2 separate regions of the Homo sapiens genome follow, and region 1 is linked to region 2. The links come from fine-mapping of genetic effects on gene expression. A gene starts in region 2. The other region holds a variant in brackets. All regions are shown on one strand. Distances are between the middles of the regions.

Region 1 (2,920 bases), 22 kb before region 2:
ACGGTTCTACTTATGTGTTCATAGATGTGCTTATATGTAAAGTAAGGAGTTCTTCAAGGAGCAAGAGTAAGTCTTGTCCATCACCTATCCCTCCCATTCAGGACCATTTTTGGTGTAAAAATAAATGGATGAATGAGTAAATAAATGAAAAAAAAATTAGACTCCTGTCATACTCTAGATCTCTGTCTTCAATATTAAAACCCTTCAAAAATTAATATAATTAAGAGCCAATATTCATATAAAACATCACAAGCTATAAATTCTTCAAACTACTTTACCTTTTATAGGGTGCTGATGTGTAAAAACATATTGCACATAAAATTAAGGAAAAAGTCTGATTGTTGTAAATCCATTTAGATGTTTACAATACATGGTTAATGTCATCATTTATCTTGCAACCACCACCTTATAGTGAAAAGAACCCCAAAAAAAACTGACAGAGAGCAATTTCAAACTACAGTTGACCCTTGAACAACACAGGTTTGAAGTGCATAGGTCCACTTATATACAGATTTTTTTTCAATATATATATTAGAAAAGCGTTTGGAGGTTTTCAACAATTTGAAAAAACTCAGACAAACTGCATAGGCTAGAAATATTGAAAAAATTAAAAAGTTAGGTATGCCTTAAATGCACAAAATATATAGGTATTAGTCTATTTTATCATTTACTACCATAAAATATGCACACACCTATCACAAAAAGTTAAAATTTATCAAAACATACATACACAAACAGACCACACATGTGCCATTCACAGAGACATATAAACAAATGTAAAAATGCAGTATTAAATCATAACTGCATAAAATTAACTGTAGTTGGGACTACAAGCACATGCCACCACACTCAGCTAATTTTTGTATTGTTTTGTAGAGACGGGGTTTCGCCATGTTTCCCAGTCTGGTCTCAAACTCCTGAGCTCAAGCAATCCACCAGCCTCAGCCTCCCAAAGTACTGGGATTAGAGGGATGAGCCACTGCACCCAGCTTTTATCGTGTTTTGTGCACTACTGTAAACCTTGAATAACACCATGGGGCCCATACGAAGTGCCACTAGTGATGCGGTAAGAGTTCTCAAGAAGCAGAGAAAACTCATGACATTACAAGAAAAAGCTGAATTGCTTGATATATACTGTAGATTAAGGTCTGCTGCTGCAGTTGCCCGCCATATCAAGATAAATGAATCCAGTATAAGAACGATTG[T/TAAAA]AAAAAAAAAAAAAAGAAAGAAAAGAAAAGAAAATTCGTAAAGCTGTCACTGCAGCTATGCCAACAGATGCAAAAACCTCACATTTTTTGTGAAAGACCTTTTCATCTCATATCGGAAATGCAGCTTTTATGCAGGTGTAAGAATTGCTGTAAGAAAGGGATACTTATAGACTAATATTATTCAAGAAAAAGCAAAGTCATTATATGACAACGTAAAGCAAATGGAAGGTGAAGGGTCTAAAGCTGGAGAATTTAATACCAGCAAAGGATAGTTTGATAATTTAGAATAAAAGTTTGGCTTTTAAAATGTCAAGATAACAAGAGAAGCAGCTTCTATTGACCAAGAGGCAACAGGCAAGTTCCCAGGCGTCATTAAGAAAATCATTGAAGATACCATCCCGGCTAACACGGTGAAACCCCATCTCTACTAAAAATACAAAAGGCCGGGCGCAGTGGCTCATACCTGTAATCCCAGCACTTTGGGAGGCCAAGGCGGGCGGATCACCTGAGGTCGGGTGTTCAAGACCAGCCTGACTAACATGGAGAAACCCCATCTCTACTAAAAATACAAAATTAGCCGGGCGTGGTGGCACATGCCTGTAATCCCTGCTACTCAGGAGGCTGAAGCAGGATAATCGCTTGAACCCAGGAGGCGGAGGCTGCGGTGAGCCAAGATCCCTTCATTGCACTCCAGCCTGGGCAACAAGAGTGAAACTCCGTCCAAAAATAATAACAATAATAATAATAATACAAAAAATTAGCCGGGCGTTGTGGCGGGCGCCTGTAGTCCCACCTACTCGGGAGGCTGAGGCAGGAGAATGGCGTGAACCCGGGAGGCGGAGCTTGCAGTGAGTTGAGATCAGGCCACTGCACTCCAGCCTGGGCGACAGAGGGAGACTCCGTCTCAAAAAAAAAAAAAAAAAAAAAAAAAAAAGAAAGAAAGAAAAGAAAATCATTGAGGAGAAAGTGTATCTGCCTTAACAGGTTTTTAATGCAGACAGAAGTACCCGATTTTGGAAATTAATGCCACAAAGTCACTTATTAGTAAAGAAGAGAAGCAAGCACCAGGATTTAAGGCAAGAAAGAGCAGGCTATCTCTACTGTTTTGTGCAAATGCAGTCAGTTTATGATCAGGACTGCTCTTACCTATAAAGCTGCTGGCTGCTAATCCCCGAGCCTTGAAGGGAGAAGATAAACATCAGCTGCCACTGTTTTGGTTGTTAACTACAAGAAGTCCTGGACAATAAGAAATCTTTGTCTGGATTGGCTCCATGGACGTTTTACCTCTGAAGACAAGAAGCACCTTGCCAGTAAAAGACTGCCTTTTAAAGGTTCTTTTGGCCGGCACGGTGGGTCATGCATGTAATCCCAGTGCTTTGGGAGGCCGAGGCGGGAGGATCAGTTGAGGTCAGGAGTTCGAGACCAGCCTGGCCAACATGATGAAACCCCATTTCTACTAAAAATACAAAAATTAGCCATGCATGGTGGTGGGCGCCTATAATCCCAGCTACTCAGGAGGCTGAGGCAGGAGAATCACTTGAACCCAGAAGGCAAAGGCTGCAGTGAGCTGAGATCGCACCACTGCACTCCAGCCTGGATGACAGAGCGAGACTCTGTCTCTAAATAAATAAGTGTTCTATTGATATTTGATATAGTTTGGATATTTGTCCCCACCCAACTCTCAAGTTAAATTGCAATCCCCAGTGTTGGAGGTG
Region 2 (2,920 bases):
ATCAATGGCTTGCATGAGGATTAAATAAAATACTATCTCCAAAATATCTAGCACAATGACCACCATTAACAAAGTCTCCCATATAAAACTGTCTTCCTTTCTTGGATTCTTGCCTAATTCCACCAACCTGAAATAACTGTTCACTCCATAAGCTTTAGTTTTTCCTAATAAATTTTATCATGTTTTTCTGCCACATTTGGTGACTTGTCTTTTGGTAAACCTCTGGATATCAGTAAAGGTGTCCTACACATTGATCTCCATTCATTCTGACTAGCAGACAACCTTCAAAACAGTACTCATACAGTGTGATTGTTATGTGAATTTTGAGAAAATCCAATATTAAAAAAGCTGACAGGTGTGAAACAGAGAGTACACTTCACCAAAAAAATCAACATACTGGCTAACTAAATGACGAACTAAAACTCACTTCTCCAACCTAACAAAACCATCTCTTAAAAGGTCTTTGTTTTCAATAAGCTGATAGATCAAATTAAGCCCCCAACTTCAGTTCTATCCCAGTATAATACTCAAATCTTACCACTTTTTTAAAAATACAGAAGTGGCTGGGCGCGGTGGCTCACGCCTGTAATCCCAGCACTTTGGGAGGCCGAGGCAGGCAGATGACCTGACGCTGGGAGTTCGAAACCAGACTGACCAACATGGAGAAACCCCGTTTCTACTAAAAATACAAAATTAGCCGGGTGTGGTGGTGCCTGCCTGTAATCCCAGCTACTCAGGAGGCTGAGGCAGGAGAATTGCTTGAACCCGGGAGGCAGAGGTTGCAGTGAGCCGAAATCCCGCCGTTGCACTCCAGCCTGGGCCACAAGAGCAACACTCCGTCTCGAAAATAATAAATAAATAGGCCAGACGCGGTGGCTCAAGCCTGTAATCCCAGCACTTTGGGAGGCGGAGGCGGGCATATCACGAGGTCAGGAGATAGAGACCATCCTTGCCAACACAGTGAAACCCCGTCTCTACTAAAAATACAAAAAATTAGCCGGGCGTGGTGGCGGGCGCCTGTAATCCCAGCAGTATACTCAGGAGGCTGAAGCAGAAGAATCGCTTGAACCCGGGAGGCGGAGCTTGCAGTGAGCCGAGATCGCGCCACTGCACTCCAGCCTGGCGGACAGAGCGAGACTCCGTCTCAAAAATAAATGAATAAATAAATAAATAAAAATAAAAAATAAAAATACAGAAGCAAATGAAAATATCTGAACTGAAAAGTTTAGCTATGTTAAGAAATATTCCTAATAACACATTTACAATTTGAAAAATCCCCTTTACCCTTTAGGGCAGTATGACAAGCACACACAAAAATAAGTGCAGTGATAACACCTTGCCACCCTGGAGTCTTTCTGAAATTTTAACGACACACCAGGGCTAGGGAGTGGGAGGGTAAGGGGACTAAAAGTTCTAGATAAAAAGCCACTTTAAAAACCAAATAAGGTTCTAAGTGACCCTGATATAGGTAACCATGCCACTAGCTTTAAATATAAAAAAAGAGTTCCTACAGTTTTAAATTTAAAATTAAAAACAAAAAAAAAACTCCTGCAAGAATAAAGTCAATGATTTTCAGGATCCCAAACACGTCTCTACTTATAACCACCCATATCTTGGAATTAAAGCTTGTTAGTCAAAGTCACAGGACATATTAACCTAACTCGTTAGTGAACACTCATTAGCTCAATTCAAGCTCCAGAACATAGTTTCGGAATACAGCACCCGTTCTGCCTGGCCGACTGCCCTGGTCAGCACAGGCACTCGCTCTCCAGTCTGTCGCTAAGCTGGATTTGATTTTTAACGCTTTACAAAGAGCTTTGACATTAAGGAAAAAGACGTGACACTTACCTTGAGAAGCGAAGGCAGCCTAACCAACTTCCGGTTTTGTTACAACTTGTATCACATTTCAGCAGCTGGGTGGAGCCAGTTAAGCCTTGAGCCAAAAGGGAACCTTTCCCAAACTAAGCTGCAGAACTTGATTTGCAAGACCAGTGCTAGTTTTAGGACTCCATTTCTGAAAACTTAGAATTCTGTTTTACACTAAGGAACAGTGTTTGCCAACTAGTACCTACTTCGCCACAAAAATTATAGTTTTTGTGTTTAATTGCAAAACTATTTGAAAATACCTGTTCTATAATAGTGCTAAGTAAAAGCAAATTAACTTTTAAAAAGTGGAAAAAGATCAGATTGCATAGAACCGAAACCTTTCTGCAGTGTGAATGATATAATGCAAAAGAAATCTTTTATTTTGCAAATTACCCCTGAAATTTAGGAGTTTTGTTTCTTTTTAAGCCTTTAATCTGTTTCACAAGACTCTTTTGCAAAAGAAAAATTTTAGGGCTAGGAAAAGACAATGTAATTGAATTTTTAACAATCTTTGTTTTTATTTTGTTTTTTGTTTTCCTGTTTTTTACTTTTTTTCTTCTCTTTAATGTAATTGAAAATATTAAACATTCCATTTCAGACCTTGAGTGACATTGTAATTGCCCAGTGGGTTCACCTTGCCCGCTGTCTAGACAGAGCCGATTTATCAAGACAGGGGAATCGCAATGGAGAAAGAGTAATTCACGCAGAGCTGGCTGTGCAGGAGACCGGAGTTTTTTGTTTTGTTTGTTTGTTTGTTTTGTTTTGTTTTGTTTTGAGACGGAGTCTCTGTCTGTGGCCCAGGCTGGAGTGCGGTGGCATGATCTCGGCTCACTGCAGCCTCCCCGTCCTAGGTTCAAGCGATTCTCCTGCCTCAGCCTCCCCAGTAGCTGGGACTACAGGCGCCCGCCACCACGCCCGGCTAATTTTTGTATTTTAGCAGAGACAGGGTTTCACCATGTTGGCCAGGCTAGTTTGGAACTCCTGACCTCAAGTGATTCCACCTGCCTCAGCCTCCCAAAGTGCTGAGATTACAGGCATAAGCCACCGCGCCCAG

Direction of the effects. Positions count from the first base shown, and alleles are read on the strand shown. Sizes are in standard deviations (SD) of each study's normalised expression.
In carriers of allele T in region 1, the expression in monocytes after LPS of the gene that starts at base 1,877 in region 2 tends to be lower than with TAAAA alone (large effect, 0.76 SD a copy in Quach 2016).

The links.
Region 1: its variant is fine-mapped to the expression of FRRS1 in monocytes after LPS (Quach 2016, PIP 0.95).

Annotation. Positions count from the first base shown.
Region 1 is chr1:99,742,859-99,745,778 of GRCh38, forward strand. The region is part of intron 4 of FRRS1 (ferric chelate reductase 1); the gene reads right to left. Among named protein-coding and RNA genes, the nearest start is that of FRRS1, 22 kb to the right of the region's middle. RefSeq lists a silencer at 2,255-2,549. The variant T/TAAAA (reference allele first, on the strand shown) is at 1,206.
Region 2 is chr1:99,764,759-99,767,678 of GRCh38, forward strand. FRRS1 (ferric chelate reductase 1) reads right to left here and starts at 1,877. Exons shown (of 17, transcript NM_001361041.2): 1 at 1,849-1,877.